Regions from separate parts of the Homo sapiens genome. Here region 1 is linked to region 2. The links come from fine-mapping of genetic effects on gene expression. Tissue or cell type: lung. Region 2 holds a variant in brackets; the other region holds the start of a gene. All regions are shown on one strand. Distances are between the middles of the regions.

Region 1 (10,862 bases), 140 kb before region 2:
GGCATGCACCTGTGGTCCTGCTGAGTTGGAAGGATCACTTGAGCCTGGGAAGTCAAGGCTGCAGTGAGCTGTGATTGAGCCACTGCACTCTAGCCTGGGCAATAGAGGGAGACCCTGTTTCAAAAAAACCAAACCAAACCAAACCAAACCAAACCAAACCAAACCAAACCAAACCAAACCAAATAGAGCACTTGTGTGCTGTGGGGGAGTTTTACTCTAAGGACTGAGGCTTAGCTTTCCTTCCCTCTAGAAGCTTATGGTCTAGTTTGGGGGAATTGGTACTGACATATGACATAATTAGTAAGCAGTAGAAGATAAAAAGCACGTACACATGTCTATAAGCTCTGCAAGTGTAGAGCTGTCTCTGTCAATTTTGCTCTTTGAGACAGATACCCCATCTTAAACATCTTTGAATGTTCCAAAGTTCTAAAGAAATGTTTGGATTCTTATTATTTTTAAGTTGTTAAACCCAAATCAAAAGGAGATATCATGAGATATGTAAGCTATAATAAGATATACATATCCATTGCTTATGTCTCACCAGGGAATATTATTTCATTGTGTTGCTGCTTTTTAAAAATCAAGAACTTTCCTTATCCGCATCTTCATTATAGGAAGAATAAACTATTTGTAGGCTAGTTAGAAATTCAGGAAAATGGAAAAAATGCCCACCATTCAAAGATGGGCACTATTAACATTTTGGAATACTTTCCAGTCTTTTTAATGTATACTTTTTCCTATATATATATGTATGTTTTCATAAATACATTAGCACAGTTGGTGAATAATGTGTGTTTTAGTTTTATATCCGATTTTTATTGTTTTCAGTTAACAAATGTAGTACTGTCACACAGTATATAGCATAGCATTTCCTCATGTCATTATAGATTATTGAAGGTGTTGTAATGGCTGCGTAATAGTCTGTCATCGATAAGCCACGGTTTTAATGCATCCTTTTATTTGGACTTTAGGTTTTCAGGTTTTCATTTTACACATAGCTGTATGATAAGCATCTTTATGAAACTCTTCAAATCTTATTTTCTTAAGACAGAAGTCTAGAAGTAGAGTCCAAGGCAAGGACAAAGGCATGGACATTTTTCATAAAACAGTCTAGTGTGTGCCAACCTGCTTTATACACAGGCGTTATCTGTTTATACTGCATTAGCAGTGAGCAAAGATTCCAATGGCATCCTGTTTCACCAGCAAGAAATAAGATTGAAAAAGTCTTTTTGTTAAATTGGTAGCTGGAAAATCACTTAAAATTTATATTTCTTTGATTATTAGTAAGGTTGAATAGTTTTTCAAAAATGTGTTGGCCATTTGTTTCTCATGCTCTTAAAAAATGTTATTCAGATCAAGTGGTTTTTCAATTTTTTCCTTTGTTCTTTCTATTTTTAAATGTTCTTTGAATACCAAGAACATTTATCCTTCACTGTAATATATGACACAAATATATTCTTCAGTTTTGTATTTTGCCTTTACTTGGTTTTGGTGTTTTTAGATGTATAAAAGCATAAAATCTGTATTCTCAATCAAATTCTACATCTTCCTTGGTGGCTTCTGTCTTTGATTAAAAATTTTATTTCTGGCTTAGCAAATGTTTTCCTATTCCACATCAGATAGTCTGAACATATCCTTATAGTTTTGTAAGTTTTTGCAGCAAAAACCTTACTTTAAAAGCATCTAAATAATCTTTAAAACATTTGGGATTTATTTTGATGTACAGTATAAGGCAAAGTGCTATCTGGATTCTTTTCTCAGTAATGTTTGTTTTGTAATCCACTTCTTCCCCATTGGCCTGGATTTCTGATTCCTATATCCACAGTATCTGTCTGGTCCTACCTAGTCTCTACCCAGTAACACTCCAAAATATATTCTTTGCTTTATGTTTTAAATATTTGATAGATCAAACTTATTCATTCGTAGAAAAAGAACTAGCTTTTCCCATCTCATTTGTGTGTGTGGATAAAATTTAGACCCATCTTTCCAATTCCCTACAAAACTATCCTGTTGCTACTTTAATTATGAATATATTATCCTATGAATGAATCTGAGAAGGATTGATATTTTCTAGTATTTTTTTTTTTTTATGGATGAGCTGATTGTACCCTGAAGTACAATCAGAATCTACATGGTGTTTCTTAAAGGCAAGGACCTGTGGTCTCCAAGAGATGTTGACAGCCACCTAATGACATCGAGTAAGATAATCCAGAGTGTGCTGGAAGTAGGGATGGGGAAATGAAGAATCTGCCGTTTAGATGTTTACTGATTTTATTCAGCTGGTATTTATTGATGGCCTACCATGCGCCAGGCTTCTGCCAGACTTCTGCCAGACTGACCTCGAAAAGGTGAGGAAGGCATAGTCCTTGCTCCGAAGATCTAGGCTAGGAAAGAAGCACATATAAGGTATGGGTTGAGCGTCCTAATCCAAAAATCTGAAATGAAAAATGCTCCAAAATCTGAACAGTGTTGAGTGCTGACACAACATTCAGGTGAAAATGCTCATATTGGAGCATTTCAGATTTCAGACTTTAAAATTAGAGATGCTCAACTGGTAAGTATAATGCAACTATTCCAAAATCCAAGAAGGTCCGAAATCCAAAACACTTCTGGTCCAAGTATTTTGGATAAGGACTACTTACCCTGTAAAAGGATAGCTTGGCGTAGGGTGTGAGGAGATGGTAGGATGGGATCGTAGGGAGATTTCACAGGACAAGAGGGGCTTTCTGACAAGTCTCAAGGAAGAGTGGATGTTTGCTGAGTAGACAGGTTGGGAAAGAAGAGACGTCCTGCACACCGAGAAGCATACTGATGTGCTTTGTGGAATAACTCACTGCAGGTCATCCAGTGTGCTTGAAACTAAGGTGAAAGTTGTCAGGAGCTGGGATGGAAAGGCCTAGAGCCGGTCCAGGAGGCGCTCCCAGCCTGCAGAGGCGGGCTGTTGTAGCTGGCCCCTCTGGAGCACAAGCTTCTCTGTGAAACCAGGTTTGTTTCATTTTTCCCCAAGACTTTGTTGCAGACTGATAGTTTATAAAATGTAATGCAGCCCTATAACTAGAAATACGAAAACTACAGCCCTCAAATTTCTTTAATATTAAGATTTGAGAGACATAAAATTAGTCTATCGAATTGCTATAAAAGTTTTAAATGTTCATTCTCCGTTTCTGTATCTAGCTTTTGGGGACTAGGAACACCTGGTGCTCGAACCCCTCTGGATCACACTTGGGTAGCACCGTGCTAGCCTCCCGGATCAGCGGGAAAGACGTGGTGGCTGTGGCTGGGAATGTTACAATAGTCAAGGTAGACCTGTGAGACGGTGTCCACGAAAATGGTTGCCACCCGGAGGCTGAGAACTGCTGTTCTAAGTGATGCTGAGTCCCTTAAGGGACGTTACCAAATATTTTATTCATTTTCTACAATGGTATTGTTTGAATCATTTGCTTAAATTACTATTAAAAAAATTCTTCATGTCAAAATAAGTGAATAAAATGAAATATCTTAAGGCAGGGTTTTTTTTTTTTTCCTCCCTAGATGAAAGCAATGGTTCTCAACCTTGACTGCATATTGGAATCACCTGGGACTTTAGAAGCTACTGCTGCTGGTTCCCACCTCAGATGAGTTGGGGATGCAACCTCAGCAGCAAGATTTTTAAAAGCTCCCCCCTGGTTCTAATGTGCAGCCACCTCTCTTCCATGTGGGACAATGATGGATAAAGTTTTCTGATTGAGAATTTATGTAAAAACGTAGCACAGTAAGAGTACTCCAAAACTATCAGTTAAATTTAAATCTGATACCTGATATTGTTTGTTTTCAGTGCAATGATCTCATGTATACTGGATGTTACGAGTTTTGAGTTTTCTTCAACCCTCCCCACCAAATACCATTAAGTATTTTAATTACAATTGATAGGATACATATCTTTCACTATAGCTTATTACATGTAATATAGTGTCAATAAATATTCTTATAAATGAAAGCTTGTGAAATCTTGATTCCCCTATTACTTACTTCCCCTGATGTCACCCCAGTGATTACTGTTGCAGCAATGACGGCAACAGTATTTAGTATTTAGATGTCATATAGTTTTTTTGTTTTGTTTTGTTTTTTGAGACGGAGTCTTGTTCTGTCACCCAGGCTGGAGTGCAGTGGCACAATCTTGGCTCACTGCAGCCTCTGCCTCCCGTGTTCAAACAATTCTCCTGCCTCAGCCTCCCTAGTAGCTGGGATTACAGACACATGCCACTATGCCCGGCTAATTTTTGTATTTTTAGTAGAGACAGGGTTTCACCATGTTGGCCAGACTGTTCTCAAACTCCTGACCTCAAGTGATCCGCCCGTCTCAGTCTCCCAGAGTGCTGGGATTACACGCGTGAGCCACCGCATCCGGACTCCCAAGTAAGATTTCATTAGAACACCTTGCCATGAGTGTGCCTAATAAACCCAATGCAACTATTGCTGGATTTTTTTTTTTTTTTGAGACGGAGTCTCGCTCTGTCGCCCAGGCCGGACTGCGGACTGCAGACTGCAGTGGCGCAATCTTGGCTCACTGCAAGCTCCGCTTCCCGGGTTCACGCCATTCTCCTGCCTCAGCCTCCCGAGTAGCTGGGACTACAGGCGCCCGCCACCGCGCCCGGCTAATTTTCTGTATTTTTAGTAGAGACGGGGTTTCACCGTGTTAGCCAGGATGGTCTCGATCTCCTGACCTCATGATCCACCCGCCTCGGCCTCCCAAAGTGCTGGGATTACAGGCGTGAGCCACCGCGCCTGGCCTATTGCTGGATTTTTAACATACAACTCCTTCAAATTATTTATTCAAATATTATTTTGGAATATTAAAAATATATTTTTAGAATAGTAATTCAAATGTTTAGTTTTTGTTTTTTTTTTTTCTATTTTGTTAACACGTTCTTGATGTGCTGAAAACTGAACATTCAGTGGTTCACTCGTTCAGTAAACAGTTTTTGGGCACCTGAACTTGGTTGTGCTAGGCACTGGGTAATCAAAGTTTAAGCCCCAAGTTCTTCCAATAGCAAATAGTACAGCTGCATGCCACTAGCTTCTTACACACAGGTGGGTGACATACATGCCAAATGAAAATAATTTTACCCTTTCCCTCTATAATTTCAAGTACACTTTTAATTTTTGATATTATAGCCCTATTTGCTTAAACACTCTTCCATCTCTTCTCCTCTCCTTGTCTCCTTTTTTTCTTTTCTTTTTTTTTTTTTTTTTTGAGACAAAGTCTCACTCTGTTGCCCAGGCTGGAGTGCAGTGTCACGATCTTGGCTCACTGCATCCTCCTCCTCTCAGGTTCAAGCAATTCTCCCACCTCAGCCTCCTGAGTAGCTGGGACTACAGGCGTGCGCTACCACACCAGGCTAATTTATGTATTTTTAGTAGAGATGGGGTTTCACCATGCTGGCCAGGCTGGTCTTGAACTCTTGACCTCAAGTGATCCGCCTGCTTCGACTAGGATTACAGGTGTGAGCCACTACACCCGGCCCCCTCGTTTTTTTAAATAAAATTATAACATTAGGTGGGAAAAAACACTTTAAAAGTAGTTCTGTCAACTATTTTGGGGGCTGTGGGCCAGTCATTTAATCCATCTGAACCTGTTTCCTCTGCTGTGAAAGGGTGATACCCTCCTTGCCCTGTCCATCTCAGTTGTTATGGGGATTATGGAAGAAGCTATATGTAACATTAACATCAGAAATTTAAATATCCAGTTAAAGTGTAAATGGATATTATAAAACAATCTTTAAAAGAAACAAAGACACTATATATATATATATGGCTTATGCATCACTAGCACTTTGGGTTTCCGAAACCCCAACATGAAGTTTCACGAAAGTTGCATTCCATGGGAGTTTGCTTCCATGATGGATTTTTTACTTTGTACTTAGCTCCTGAAAAAGAAACTTCCTGGGTTTTCTTTTTTCCTCCTACGGTTTTGCAGCGGCTTGGCTGCTTCCTGTCAAGAGCCACTCTGCCAAGGCCCCGTCTCTAGAGTCTCTCCCCCTCCCCTTTCTCTTTCTTTCCAACACTTGCTACATTGAGAGGCTGATCCTGTGCAGAAGCCCTCCCTGCCTCGGCAGCGCGGCGCAGTGAGCATGCTCGGCCTCCTGCGGGAAGAGGAAGCGGCGGCATAGGAGTCATGCCAAGCATAGCCCTCATGTCAGCGCTGCCGGCTTGCAGCGGGCTGTGAGAGGGGCCGGCGCCGCTTTGTCCTAGGAAACGGGCTGCGCGTTTCTCTTTTTCACTCTTTTCCATTTCCAGGAAGGACTTGTAAGGACTTCTGAAACGCTGTTTTCATACTCGATCGGGGATACAGTACATACACCGTCTACCAGTAAGCCCTTGAAGGGTTTCGTGTGAGCTCGATTTTTTTGTGCCTGATTTTTTTTTTTTTAACTTTTGCATACTTTGTTTTGATAGTCTGAGGCTGGGCCTCTGCCTTTGTGAAGTTGAAGAGCCAGGAGCTACTCAGCAACAATTGATTTTTGAAACTTAACTCTTTTGGGGCAAAAGCAAAGAGCTGGTTTTCTTTGCTAGCCCAATAAATGCTATTTATGAAGATGGACCTGTTGAACTATCAGTACTTGGACAAGATGAACAACAATATCGGCATTCTGTGCTACGAAGGTAGATGTCCCGTTGTAGAATTACTGCCCGTTGCTCGTCCCGGCCACTCCTCCTCAGTGTGCTGGGTGCCTGCCTTCTAAGCGCCCGCTGTCCTCCTCCGGGGTGTAGGGCACTTGAAAGGCCGGCGTTTCTTAGGTTCGGTTCGGCACCGAGTGTGTTCGGATCTCAGGCTGCGGGGGGCGGTGGAGGGGGCTGGACGGGGAGGCAGTGAAGTAGAAACCCTTCAAAGTTTGCTCGTTGCTTGCAACGTACTCGCGCCTCACATTTTTAACTCTTTAAAATGTATGTATTTTTGATTTCCGTTAATATTGTCTTTAGGGGAAGGACTTGTAGGACGCCGGTAAAAGTTGAGCCTCTTTGGGGGAGGGGCTGGTAAGGATTGCACCGTCTACTGTACCCTGCTGTGGGCCACGGCGCCCTGCAGCTCACGGAGGGGGAGCCAAAGTTACAGCGAGTTTTTGTGCTCGCGAGTGAGCGTCCCAAACAGCGGAGAATGTCCCTCTCCCGCGTGGGGCCGGAAGGGCACCGTGTCAGCGAGCACAGGCGGGCTCTTTGTCTCGCTGGCGCTTCCTGTGCAGCCCGGGGAGCGCTGACACTGGGGGGTGTTCCTCGCGCTCCGCTCCCTGTGGGAGCGATTACACAACACCCCGACCCCCAGCCTGCCCTGAAAAAGAGAGAGCCGCGCCGAACTGTTATTTATTACCTCCTACTGCCCGCGAGGTGCTTCCCCCACTGTCTTGTATTTCCAACTGTCTCTGGTAGCAGTCAGAGAAAAATCTATTTCTTAAGCCCTCGGACATCCTCTACGTGCGATTTGAAAAAGTGGCAATGGCCCTGGGTCTGCCGCCGAGGGCATCTCCGGGGGAGTTCGGCCTGGCAGGAAGAGTGTTTTCTGTTGTAACCACACACACATCCGGGACTCTTCTCTTTCTCATTCAGCAGGAGCAGTTTCCATTTTTTCTCCAATAATACACGGGACATTTCTCTTGAAAAAGAAAACAGTTACAAAAACTTGGGAGGGTGATTCACTTGTATTTTTTTAATCTAAAAACTTCAGGCCTGTTTCCTAATCAGTTGAAAACTCACCCTTTCAAGAGTATTTTTCCCCTTCAAGGAAAAAAAACAACAACAACCCTCATTCACGTTGTTTTTTAAAACTCTATGGATGAGGATCTCATATTTAACGTTTTTTAAAAAGAGTATTTGTTTTTCTTTACTCCTACTAGTTCCTGCTATGAGAATTTTCGTGAATTTCTTTCTTTGCATCTGATGTGTTAAGTAACATCTTGCTTCTGAACTCACTTAAAAAAGGCAGCCGACTTTAGAAAGCCGTAAGCAGCCATTGCTGGGCTTGTTTCCCGTGACATTCACACATTGTAGTCAGGGTTTTGTTTTTCTTGTTTTTTTTTTTTTTAACCATCCCCGCTTCCCCCAACAAGAAAGAAAAACTTCTGAGGCAATTTCTGTTGTATTGTCTTTGCCAACAAGTAATACGATATTTTAAAAACAAAACATAATGGCCTAAGAGAGAAATATAAGATTGTTAGGAAATTGATACCAGATTAGTTTTTCCTGTCTCCGATTGGTGAGGACCAACTTACGGACAGCGAGCCCAGGTCGAGTTGTTGTGTAGCATGCAACACCCAGGAAACTAGAGTGCTCTGCTCTGCTCTTCTCTCTCGGTATTTGGGAGGAAGAAACTTTGATTTTGAAGATTGAGTAGCTATATGGGATAATGGGCTGAAGTCTGTTTGGTTTAAACATCTGCTCCTATTTTCCTTATTATGAGAGTTAACATTATTTTAACACCAGAATAAATACAGAGGAAATGAAGGAAAGCACAGCAAAATTTGAGTGGTGTTTATAGTGAATTGTTGATGTCCTAGTGGTTTTCTCAGTGTAAACACTGCACACATCTGGTCTGAACTCCAGAGGGTGTTTTGAAGATGGGCATAAATCACACACGGGATTTTTTTGTAGGAAAAGTTGGAAAGGTTATGGTTCTTTAAAATCCAACACTTGGACTTGGAGAATATTCGTTTTAAACATATCAGCTCCCCAGCATTCCAGGGAAGTTGTTTGGAAAATGGAATGTACTGTTGGTAGGCAACATTTGATTTCATTTAGGGCACAGTCAAGTTTCATGCCCCTTAAGAATAAGGGACAAATTAATTTTATGACATTTTAGTTTTAAAAATTAAGATGCGGATGGTTAATTATTCTTACCAGCTAAATTATACCATATTCCTTAGTTGTATGAGACATAGCTCTACTCTAAAATAAACCATGTGTCTGGTCTTTTTTTTTTTTTTTTTTTTGGTGATGAAGTCTCGCTCTTGTCCCCCAGGCTGGAGTGCAATGGCGCGATCTTGGCTCACTGCAACCTCTGCCTCCCGGGTTCAAGCCATTCTCCTGCCACAGCCTCCTGAGTAGCTGGGATTACAGGTGCCTGCCACCATGCCCGGCCCATTTTTGTATTTTTAATAGAGATGGGTTTCACCATGTTGGGCAGGCTGGTTTCAAACTCCTGACCTCAGGTGATCCACCCACCTCAGCCTCCCAAAGTGCTGGGATTACAGGCATGAGCCACCGCACTCAGCCTGTACTGTCTTTCTTAAACCTCTCTTGTGACTTAATACGCAAATCGATCTTTTTAGCCGTTTACCTTGTAGCATACAAGGTCTTCCTTCCTGACTGACTCCATATTGCTTAGATGTGGACTCCCTCCTTGGTAACTGCTTCCTGGCTCCTGCCCTCCACCATAGTTGTCTGCAAGAATAACTGAAAAGAATAAAGGGAAAAAGTTAACCACAATTAGCAGGTTTGGGGTGGGAGAAGGAGACGTTAGGGAGAGGGCCGGAAGAATCGAAGTCTGGCTGACTTCTGGAAGCTAACTAATTCCCTTCACTAATGATGAGCGGATTAGTAGAACTGGGCTTGTGCTATGTGTTCAGAACCTCATGGCTTATTACTACCGTACTCAGCAATTAACCACTGCGTCCATCACCCCACTGAATGCTCAGATGATACCCACTTGAAGCCCAGTTTTGCCTCTGTCTCCATGCAAAGGTCATAGGCCAACCCCAGCCCTCATTTTTTCCCTCCTCTGAACACCTGAGAATACCTTACTAGACTGGCGAAAGCCTCGTGAAGGCAGAGCATTCTGTCTTGGTGACCGCTGCATCCCTGAATCCTAGCACAGGGTCTGAGTGGGCTTTCAGGAAGTGGTTTAGAATGAAGGCTGACTCAAAAAAAAATCAGTGCAAGCTCTCAATGGCAGCTGTAGTTGCTCCTGTATAATTTAATACTTGATTATATACTGCCTTGTATTCTCTATCTAATTATTGCAGAGCTATCCAGGGCCTCAGACATCATCTAATACCTTTGCCTTGTTTTCACCAAGGAAAGTGAGGCTCAGAGAGGGAAACTCTGTTTTTCAGAGAGTTGATTTAGTTTATTTAGAAAGTTTGTGGCAGGATTGAATTGAGTTTTGACTCTTCTATGAATCTTCTATGCCGTGCTGCCTCTCCAGAATTATTTCATGTCTTTTTTTTTTCTTTTGAGACGGAGTCTTGCTCTGTCGCCCAGACTAGAGTGCAGTGGCGCCATCTCCACTCACTGCAACCTCTGCCTCCCGGGTTCAAGTGATTTTCCTGCCTCAGCCTCACTAGTAGCTGGGATTACAGTAGGTGCCCTGCACCATGACCAGCTAATTTTTGTATTTTTGGTAGAGGTAGGGTTTCACCATGTTGGCCAGGCTGGTCTCAAACTCCTGATCTCAGGTAATCCGCCCGCCTTGGCCTTCCAAAGTGCTGGGATTACAGGTGTGAGCCACCGCGCCGGGCTTATTTCATGTCTTATCTCCTCATTAGCTCCGTGATGTTAGGGTCATGCCCCGTCCTGGGTGCCCTCACGGCCTAGCACGGGGATAACACCCTGGATTACAGCACACAGTGGAGCCTCTCCCACTTCTCCTTGCTCTGAAGCCAGTTGCTGGTCCAAATTCCGAGGCTGTTGTGATGTTGGGGAAAGGGTAGGTGAGACACCTCTGAGTGACCGGCCTCGCTGGAAGGTGCTCTTCGTGCTGCTCTGGCACTGGGCTTGCTTTCCTTTTGTCTGCCTGTGCAGAGGAGGAGGCCTGCGTGGATGCCAGCTCCAGAGCCAGTCCCCAGGGAGCAGGGACAGGGACAGGTTAGACCACGGGCTTTCCTCAAGATCGC
Region 2 (10,862 bases):
AATTTCTGCAGACACCAGCTGGCTGGGGGAGGGGCAGAAGATGGGCGGGCAGAATAAAGAAAGGATCTCCCTAGTCTTGGAGGAAAACAGGGGAAGCCAGAGGGAGGAAGTTGTTCTGGGTTCAAAGAAATCAACTTAGAAAGCTTCCCTGATAAAAATAGCCATTGGCAAATCCTAGTCTATTTATATCACCCATCCAAGATCACTATCAGGATCCTGGGCTGAATCACAAGACCCAGTAAATAAGTATGGAGCGCTGGCTGCCTGATTTATGGGAAGATATTTAAACACCACTGGAGCAACTGAGTCAGGGAAAATTTGAGTGCTGGCACCAAACGGTACATTTACAAGTGGCTCTCACTTTACAGAAATAGATAGGTTCCTGAAAAGTTGGCTATAAAATGAATTCAATTAACAGAATCATATTTTCCTAGTGAATCACATCTTAAAATTAGAGATAGATTGGGGGAGGGGTGGCCAAAAAAAACCAACCACACCAAACAACTGTGCCTCTGAGACTAAATAAAAATCACTCTTCATTCAGCAAACTCTAAAACGTCACTTACTTAAAAGGCCATTATAAACGCTCATAAAATACAAACAATTTGTCAGCAAACATGTCTATGTCTGTGACATACAAGGAGTTGCACCAGGCTTTGTGGAGGCTTATAAGACACAAGTGGCTGGCCATCAGGAGCTCACAATTTGGCACTTAAAAAAAAAAAAAACCACACTGAAATTCATGTTGCATCAGAAAAAAAACAGCTCCCTGGATGTAGACAAATGTGCATGCATGAGGGCCTGCCTGGCCCTTTAAGTGTTATCTGGGCCGGGAACAGCTCGGCTCCCTCCTGCCGGCAGCAGCCAACCAAGTTGGCCTCTAAGTACTGCTTTTCAAACTCTATGTTTATAAGCTAAAAGCTGTTGGCCATGTGGCGCTGCGTCATAATTGCTTATTTATTTAACTAACTTGGAAAGAAAAAAAACCAACCCATGACCTGGGTGTTTTAATAAAATAAGAAGAGTTAAGGTACTTAAAGCTCTCTGAAAAGTTAAAGGCCTGCACAACCCAAGGGGGTTGTTATTTTAAAGTTTAAAGGGCATTTGCTCAAGGGATCTGTTTGTTTGGAAAAAGTCTGTCTCCTTCTACTTATGCTCTCTTGCACATAGAATATTGGTCATTGGTAACAGGAGCAGAGATCTAATTTGTTATTAATTTGTTATTAGTTTTGTAAGTGCAGATCACGTTGTACCGAGTTTGCTTTAAGCAAGAGACAAACACACTTCAGAAGCCAACACTTGTGAAGTGTTGGCTCTGTCAGCAACTACAGGCACAGAACTGAGGATTATTAGTTCAAAATAGGCTACATAGGGCTGTGCATGGTAGCTGACACCTGTAATCTCAGCGCTTTGGGAAAGCAAGATAGGAGGATCACTTGAGCCCAAGAGTTGGAGACCAGCCTGGGCAAGATGGTGAGACACTGTCTCTATTACAAGAAAATAATAATAATATTAGCAGGCATGGTGGTACACCAGCTACTTCGGAAGCTGAAGCAGGAGGATCACCTGAGCCCAGGAATTTGTGGTAGGCAGTGAGCTATGATCAGGCCACTGCATTCCAGCCTGGGCCACAGAGCAAGACTCTGTCTCTTATTTAAAAAATAAAGCTATATCCCTTAGACCAAGCTTGTCTAACGCATGTGGCCCAGGATGGCTTTGAATGCAGCCCAACACAAATTTGTAAACTTTCTTAAAACAGTATGAATTTTTTCTTTTTTTTTTTTTTTAAGCTCATCAGCTATCGTTAGTGTATTTTATGTGCGGCCCAAGGTAATTATTCTTCCAACGTGGCTCAGGGAAGCCAAAAGATTGGACACCCCCCCACCTTAGACACTGTGTGCCTCACGAACTGGCACCACCATAGGGGCCTGTCCATAGCTAGTAAGAGTGAAATGCTTCCTGTTGACATCTGCTGTAGACCTGAAGGTATACAAAGTGTCGGAGAGTAAACAGCACATTTTTGAAAAAACACTTTTGTTTTAATTCCATAGAGATGAGCCAAGCTGTGGTAGAGGCTGTTGTTTATCCTACTAGCCATTCTTCCCTTCTTCCTTTTACTGATGGAACTCTCCCAGTTTTGTTTTGTTTTTTGTTTTTTTGTTTTTTTTTTAATTACCAGCAAGGTTCAGGGTTGCCCAACTACAGACTGTGTTTCCCAGCATGCCTTACACCCCATGTGACTAATGTTGGCCAATGAGATGGGATGTGAGCAACTGCCAGGTCCAGTCCTTTAAGCAGGAAATGGTTGCCTTCCATTTCCTCTCTTCCTTCCCACATCTAGAGTGTGGACTTAAAATTGCTGGGCTAGCTTTAATAATTCCCAGCAGGGCTTCTTAACCCTGGGGTCCTCAGACCCTCAAGGAGTCCATGAATAGAATTCACTGGTCTTTAAATTTGGAAGGACAAACAAAAACAAAAACAAAAACAAAAAACACCCATAACTTTAGCATTTCCTTCACTTATAATGGAGGGAACAAACCACATTATTAGCAGTGTCCATGACTCTGTCAATAACAGAAATTATAGGTATTTTCATATCACATTATACTTATGGATTGTCTTGAAATATCACAAATACTCATCACTACTTTGGAATTACAAAAATAGCCTTTAGAATTGACACTAGATCATTATTTGATGTATTAATAAAGTACATATTACTATGTCATAAATTTTGGGTTTTTAAAATACTTTGATAATTGTATTTCAACATAATTAATTTCCTTTGTAACTCTGTGTTTTATTTTACACATTTAAACAAAATTTTTATTTATTTATTTTGAGATGGAGTCTCACTCTGTCTCCCAGGCTGGAGTGCAGTGGTGTGATCTTAGCTCACTGAAACTTCCGCCTCCTGGGTTCAAGCGATTCTCCTGCCTCAGCCTCCTGAGTAGCTGGCACTACAGGTGCGTGCCACCTCACCTGGCTAATTTTTGTATTTTTAGTAGAGGCGGGGTTTCACTATGTTGGGCCTGGCTGTTCTCAAACTCCTGATCTCAAGTGATCTGCCTGCCTCAGCCTCCCAAAGTGCTGGGATTACAGGCATGAGCCACTGCGCCCAGCCTGATTTTGCACATTTAAAAGCATTAGTCTGTGAAGTGGTCCCTAGCCTTTGTCACTCTGTAAAGTGATCCATGGCACAAAAAATGCTATGAATCCTTACCTAGGGAATGGCAGAGCAATAATATTTAGGGAACTCAGGCCTGTGGATGACCTTGTACAGCAGAGCACCCATCAAGTTCTAGACCACTCCTCTAGACCAGGGCTGCCCAACTAAACTTTCTGTGATGATGGAAGCATTTTTTTGCTTTGTTTTGTTTTCAGACAGAGTCTCGCTCTGCCACTCGGGCTGGAGTGCAGTGGCACAATCTCAGCTCACCACAACCTCTGCCTCCTGGGTTCAAGTGATTGTCCTGCCTCAGCCTCCTGAGTAGCTGGGATTACAGGCACCTGCCACCACTCCCAGCTAATTTTTGGGTTTTTTTTTTTTTTTTTTTTTTTTTTTTTTGTAGAGATGGGGTTTCACCATGTTGACCAGGCTGGTCTCAAACTCCTGACCTCAAGTGATCTGCCCACCTTGGCCTCCCAAAGTGCTGATACGCATAAGCACATAGGATGACCACACCCAACCAATGATGGAAATGTTTTATCTGTGCTGTCCAATACAGTAACCTCTAGCCAAGAGGCTACTAAGCACTTGAAATGCGGCCAGTGCAACTGAGGCAGTTAACTTTTTATTTTGCTCGAATTACATTTAAATAATCAAATGTGCTTAGTGGCCACCGCACTGGATGGTGCAGCTCTAGACTGTTACATGGAGAAACAAATTTCTACCATGTTTAAACTGTGATATTCTGGGGTCTATTATAGTACCTTAGCCTATACCTTAACTAATACACAAACGTACCTGGACTCAGTAATAATAAATGTACTAGGGAAAGAAGGCACATTTACAGAGAGACCAACTCAAAAAATACACAAACTCACTAACTGAAAGCAAGATTTATACAGAAATGTTCTATTTACAAAGCATTCCCATATATGAATACATGACTTTACGTGATACTCATAATGCCCCTGTGACTGTGACTGCCTTGATCTTGCTCTCAAAGGGGCTTAGTGACTTTACTAATCATGAAGATGGTGGAGCCAGGGGTCAATTCCAGATGTTACCACTGCACTGTGTACCTTTCAGCTCTCTGAATGCCTCCAGACAGAAGTGACAAGACTGCAAAAGACCAATGGCGAGCACTGACTAGCACTTAAGCCACGGAGCCTACTGATACTTTCATCCATCTGCCTCCAGGACACACAAACATCTGCCAAATCCTTTTTTTGGCCCTAGGGTTTAGGGACTTGCAGACACCTGAATTTCCCTAATTCTTGGCAAGGTTCCCATTTCCTGTGGTGTCACTGACTTGCAAGGACCCTTGAGGGCTGAGAGTGGTCTTTAGAAGACTCTTTTGCGGTCGGAGGTAAGGACTTGTAAAGGACGCTGCTTTTCAGCAAATTTTACTGCCAGGGTCATTTCAGTGACCTCTCATTTTCCTCTCTTTGAGATCAATTCAAAGAATAATGTTATGTTAAAACAATAACCAAAAATAGTAATAGGTTATAATTTTATCAGTAACAAAAGGTCCATGTCTTCAATTCTAAACAACACAGACACCAAGGGAGAAAAGCCCATATACTTAAGTGTGACTATATCCTACATCCCAAGCTTCCTTAGAGCCAGGATACACCTGGCTTACCGCTAGTCTTCTTTTCTCTACCTGCGCGAACACTCCTCCATTCCCTAGGCCTATAGAACTCCTACTCGTCCTTTAAAAACCCAGTCTGCCCATTCTCATAGCACTTTTGTTCTTTTTAAAACGTTTTCACTTGAGTAAAATTATGTATGAACATAGTTTAAAGAGCCAAATAATTCCAAGGCTTGTTATGAAAATTAACAGGCTCCCAGCTTCCATACTATACTCCGTAGAGACTTACCTGATACTTTTAGTTACCTCTGTATGTTAAAATAACGTGCTCATATTGTCACCTCTTGACTTCTCGATCTTTTCAGGTTTAGGCATTATATATATTTCCCATTTTGCTCGGTAAATGAGGATTTGGCTCTTTCACTGCTGTGAGCCCCCTTACCCCTGTCATGGCAAACTCTTGCCTCCCTATCTTTCCACCATTTCAACATAATTATACTATAATTTTGGTTAGATCTACATCCAGTGTTGACATTATTTTGACTGTTTAATTGCTGTATCTAGGTAAGCCATGTAATATACTAGGATTACTTATTCTTTCTTGTACAACATTGTTTTCCCTGGAATTAACAACTGTCTTTTCTGTTGTTCTACTTTGTCTCTATGTACTTATCAATAATTTAATCGCAAACTCTCTGCCAACTGTCTAAACCTCCTAAATATATGTTCAGACACATTAGGTATTCAAGCCATTTCATCTTAACACAATCTGTCCTAGAGCCCTCTGGCCTGGATCCAGTCTGTTCTAGTCATCCTCAGTGCTTCAGGCCCAGCTGCCACCCCAGGCTTCCCTTCGCTACTGTTTTGAGGATGCCTTTCAATCTCTCCTTTGTGGGATCTCCCATTCCCTATATTCCATCTCTTTCCCTTTCTTGGTTACTCTTACTTTTCTGGAGTTCATCCTCCAATGGTTTGCATAGGGTGACTAGGAGACAAATGTTTTGTTTATCTGATCTTGTGTATCTGAAAGTATCTATTCTATGTTCATATTCAATGAGCGGTTTGGCTTGATACAGACTTGTAGATTAGATATAATTTCCCTTTATTGTTTGAAAGC[A/G]TTGTTGCATTGATTTCCAGTTTCCAGTGTAGTTATTCAGAAGTCCAAAAACAACTCTGATTTTTTATTCTTTGTATATCAACTTTTTTCCCCCTCTCGACTGTCTTTTGTTCCCACTGTTTTGAAATTCACTATGATGAACCTTAGTGTTGGTCTAGTCTCATCTACTGTTCTGGGCAGTTGGTAGACTCTCTCAATGGAGACATTTGTTTCTCTCAATTGTGGGTAACTGCCTTTAATTTCTTCCTTATTTTTTCTGGCCTGTTTTCTATGTTTTCCTTTCCGCAAACTCTATTATTTGAATATTGCTTCTAGCCTGATCCATCTTTTCATCTTTTCTCCCTTATTTTCCATTTCTTTGTCTTTTTGCTTAGTTTCTGGAAGATAGTCTAAATTTCACTGTCTAATCCTTCTACTGAATTTTAAACTTATATATTTAATTTCTAAGAGTACTTTTAATCATTTGATTTTTTTTTTTTTTTTTTTTTTTGAGACAGAGTCTCGGTCTGTTGCCCAGGCTGGAGTGCAATGGCGTGATCTTGGCTCACTGCAACCTCCGCCTCCTGGGTTCCGGCGATTCTCCTGCCTCAGCCTCCTGAGTAGCTGGGATTACAGGCACGCGCCACCATGCCCAGCTAATTTTTGTATTTTAGTAGAGATGGGGTTTCATCATGTTGGTCAGGCTGGTCTTGACCTCCTGACTTCGTGATCTGCCCACCTCAGCCTCCCAAAGTGCTGGGATTACAGGCGTGAGCCACTGCGCCCGGCCTGAATATCCTTTTTTTTGTTAATAGCATTTTTTGTTTCATGAATGTAGTACCTCTTTCACTGAGGGATAAGATATATGTACATATTATATGTTCTTACTGAGAACATAAATGATAGTAGAATTTTTTGGGACATGTAACATTTTTATCTCCTTACATTGTCTTTTTTCCTTCAAATTTAGTCTAGTCTTTTTTGAGTTAGACATCTGGGAATACTTGGTTTCTGCTCCTACTTAAGGAGAAGGTACTCAGAAGCTGTCTGAAGTCCACTATGGCCTTCAGTATAGGGTCATCTGGCCGACTGTCATTCAAAGAGCCCCCGACAACTGCTCTTTTGAGCTGGTCAGAGGCTCTGGAGAAGGACTGCCCACTCTCCTGCCTGGAAGGTATTTGAGCCTGACCACCTGTGTTGTTGGATCCTAGTGTGGGGAGAAGCTTGGATACCCCTGTATCTGGTATGTAAACATTCATTTAATCCCATATTTTCAGTGGTATACACGCTACTTTCAACTCTGGCTGGTGTATCCTAATCCAAAAGCCTGTTTTACCCTTAACAGAAAGCAAACTTTCAGTTTCCAAAATGGAATAAGAGAGGGCAGTTGTCTGTCCTATTGCACAAAAGCTAAGGTGGGGGCCTGGGGATCTAATTGCTTCTTAGGAAGTTCAACCAACTCTCCTATTTAAGCCCCATACTTCACACTTTCAGATGCATCTATAGTCCCAAATCCAAGTCTTCAGGAGGCTCTATGGGAAATACTGGCTTTCTCTACTGGTTGGCTTAGAATTTAACATTCTTGTGAATAATGCCACAATTCACAATAGCAAAGACTTGGAACCAACCCAAATGTCCAACAATGATAGACTGGATTAAGAAAATGTGGCACATATACACCATGGAATACTATGCAGCCATAAAAAATGATGAGTTCACGTCCTTTGTAGGGACATGGATGAAATTGGAAACCATCATTCTCAGTAAACTATCGCAAGAACAAAAAACCAAACACCGCATATTCTCACTCATAGGTGGGAATTGAACAATGAGATCACATGGACACAGGAAGGGGAACATCACACTCTGGGGACTGTTGTGGGGTGGGGGGAGGGGGGAGGGATAGCATTGGGAGATATACCTAATGCTAGATGACGAGTTAGTGGGTGCAGCACACCAGCATGGCACATGTATACGTATGTAACTAACCTGCACAATGTGCACGTGTACCCTAAAACTTAAAGTATAATAATAATAAAAAATAAATTAAAATTAAAAAAAAAAAGAATTTAACGTTCTTGTCCATCTTTTCAGGATCCAAAATTTTTGTTGCTCTTGTTTGTACTTTTATTCTCTCATTATCCTTCAGAGTTTTGCATATATCACATAAATGACATATGTTACTGTTATTTTACATGACAGCAAACATATATATAAACATATGTGTGTATGTGTGTATATATGTTTACTACCATTTTAGGAAGCTTCAAGAGGGATCAAAAGTAAACCCAGGATCACGCCTGTAATCCCAGCACTTTGGGAGGCCGAGGCAGGGGATCAACTGAGGTCAGGAGTTCTAGACCAGCCTGGCCAACATGGTGAAACCCCGTCTCTGCTAAAAATGCAAAAATTAGCCGGATGTGGTGGCGCACACCTGTAATCCCAGCTACTCAGGAGGCTGAGGCAGGAGAATCACTTGAACCCGGGAGGCGAAGGCTGCAGTGAGCCACAATCGCACCACTGCACTCCAGCCTGGGCAACAGAGGGAGACTCTGTCTAAAAAATAAAAAGTATATTGCAGACATCATGATACTTAACCTCAGAATATATCAGCATATATTCCCTGAGAATAAAGGGAATTTCTTATACAACCATAATACATAATTTACTATGTAACCATTTTCCTATACAACCATAATAACATTATCACACCTATCTATTAATATCATTATCTATTAATAATATGGAGTCCGTACTTAAATTTCCTCAACTGTTTCAAAAATGAACTTTACTTTCTAAATGTAACACTGTAGATTTTTCTGTACCACTCAAAAATAACACTGAAATAGAAACTTCTCAGTCCTTCTGACAAATAATAACAGCTAGTATCTACTAACTGCTTTCTATATATTAGGCACTTTTCTCAGGTTTTCTGATATCCCTGGGTTAATTTTCTTGTTCCTCTTATAACTCCCTAAGCATGATACAAAATTTCTATGATTTTCTTTTCTTTTCAGACAGGGTCTTACTCTGTTGCCCAGGCTGAGTGCAGTAGCACAATCATGGCTCACTGCAGCCTCAACTTCCCAGGATCAAGTGATCCTCCCACCTCAGCATCCCAGGTAGCTGGGACTACAGGTGCGTATCACCATACCTGGCCAATTTTTTATTTTTAGTAGAGACAGCATTTTGCTATGTTGCCCAGGTTGGTCTTGAACTCCTGGCCTCAAGTGATCCTCGCACCTTGGCTTCCCAAAGTGCTGAAATTACCAGGGTGAGCTACCATGCCCGGCCCTATTATTTTCATTCATTTCTGTTATTTATACAAAAACTTAGGTTGGGCGGTGCAGTGGCTCACGCCTGTAATCCCAGCACTTTGGGAGGCCAAGATGGGCAGATCACAAGGTCAGGAGATCGAGAACATCTTGGCCAACATGGTGAAACCCCGTCTCTAGTAAAAATACAAAAATTAGCTGGGTGTGGTGGCGCACGCCTGTAGTCCCAGCTACTCTGGAGGCTGAGGCAGGAGAATTGCTTGAACCTGGGAGGTGGAGGTTGCAGTGAGACGTCCGGCCTGGGTAACAAGAGCAAAACTCCGTCTCAGACAAACAAACAAAAAAACCTTAAGTTGAAGAATTTTCCTAAGCACTGTATTATCTATACTCAAAAATTTTACGTGTAGAACTTTCACATCATTTTCTACATGGCCTAGAATTTTGGTTTTGATTTTCTTGTTGACCTAAGGGGAGTTTTAAAATTTCCCAATGGTGGAGTTTTATTTTCTAGTTTTTAGTCTTTTAATTTGTATTTTTTAGTTGTATTGCATAGTGATCAGATATGTTATTGTTACTTCTATTTTTTTGGCATTTACTGTGGTTTTCTTGGTGTCCTACTCGATATGATCAATTTTTGTGGCAACTAAGAAGGTTCATCAATTAATACATTAATATCATATTAACTAAACAGCAGTTTTATGTCTCCACCTCCTTACTCCAACCAAATTCTACATGTTAGAATTCAAATTTTTAATATTTTGGCATGGGGGTTTGAGACATTACATCCTCACCACTGCCATACAACTGTGTTCATATTGTTCTTTATGTTGCGCGTTGCTGCTATTGAATTAAAGAGCATTAGCCCTGGAAGGGAATTAAAAGGTCATCTAAGCCAACCTCCACTCAGTACAGATATATCCTTTACAGCATCCCCAGAAGATGTTAAAATGGATTTTATTTGAATTATTGCTGGACCAGGGAACTCAGAACACTCCTGAACTTGTGGCGTTTGTGGCCCATCAGGAAATAAGGATTAAGATGCTCATAAAATATTTGTTGGCCACCTACTATGAGGACTGCATTGCCCAATGCATCTTGGGGGATGCACAAGACTGGTATGATACTACACCTGTGTAACAGCTAGCACTGTGGCTCCCAAACTGCGTGTGGAGGTGCCCTGGGCACTGCAGTGAATCTGCACCATGGGATATTTTAGATTTTTTGTTTCTTTTTTTTTTTTTTTTGAGATGGAGTTTCGCTCTTGTTGTCCAGTCTGGAGTGCAATGGCATGATCTTGGCTCACTGCAACCTCTGCCTTCCCGGTTCAAGCGATTCTCCTGCCTCAGCCTCCCGAGTAGGTGGGACTACAGGTGTGCACCACCACACCTGTCTAATTTTTTGTATTTTTAGTAGAAACAGGGTTTCACCACATTAGCCAGGCTGGTCTCGAACTCCTGACCTCAGGTGATCCGCCCTCCTCGGCCTCCCAAAGTGCTGGGATTGCAGGCGTGAGCCACTGCGCCTGGCCGTATTTTAGATTTTCAAGGAAAGCAACATGATACTAACATCTGTCAGGCACTGCACAAACCACTAGATCAAGGTGGGTCACAGCTTCAACATTAGTTCAATCTGCATTCCTTCTGATGATCTCATATCTTTGGAAAACTGGGTTTTTGGCAGTCGTTTCATAAGAGCAAGTATGTGTGAAAACCCATGTAGAACAGGAAAGGA

The links. PIP is the estimated chance that this variant, and not a neighbour inherited with it, causes the effect.
Region 1: it holds the start of VGLL4, and the variant in region 2 is fine-mapped to the expression of VGLL4 in lung (TOPMed, PIP 0.97).

What each region holds. Positions count from the first base shown.
Region 1 is chr3:11,639,217-11,650,078 of GRCh38, reverse strand. VGLL4 (vestigial like family member 4) reads left to right here and starts at 6,164. Exons shown (of 5, transcript NM_001128219.3): 1 at 6,164-6,642. The coding sequence starts at 6,561. RefSeq lists enhancers at 5,941-6,020, 7,211-7,580, 10,125-10,862.
Region 2 is chr3:11,499,261-11,510,122 of GRCh38, reverse strand. The region is part of intron 20 of ATG7 (autophagy related 7); the gene reads right to left. Among named protein-coding and RNA genes, the nearest start is that of VGLL4, 140 kb to the left of the region's middle. The variant A/G (reference allele first, on the strand shown) is at 5,878.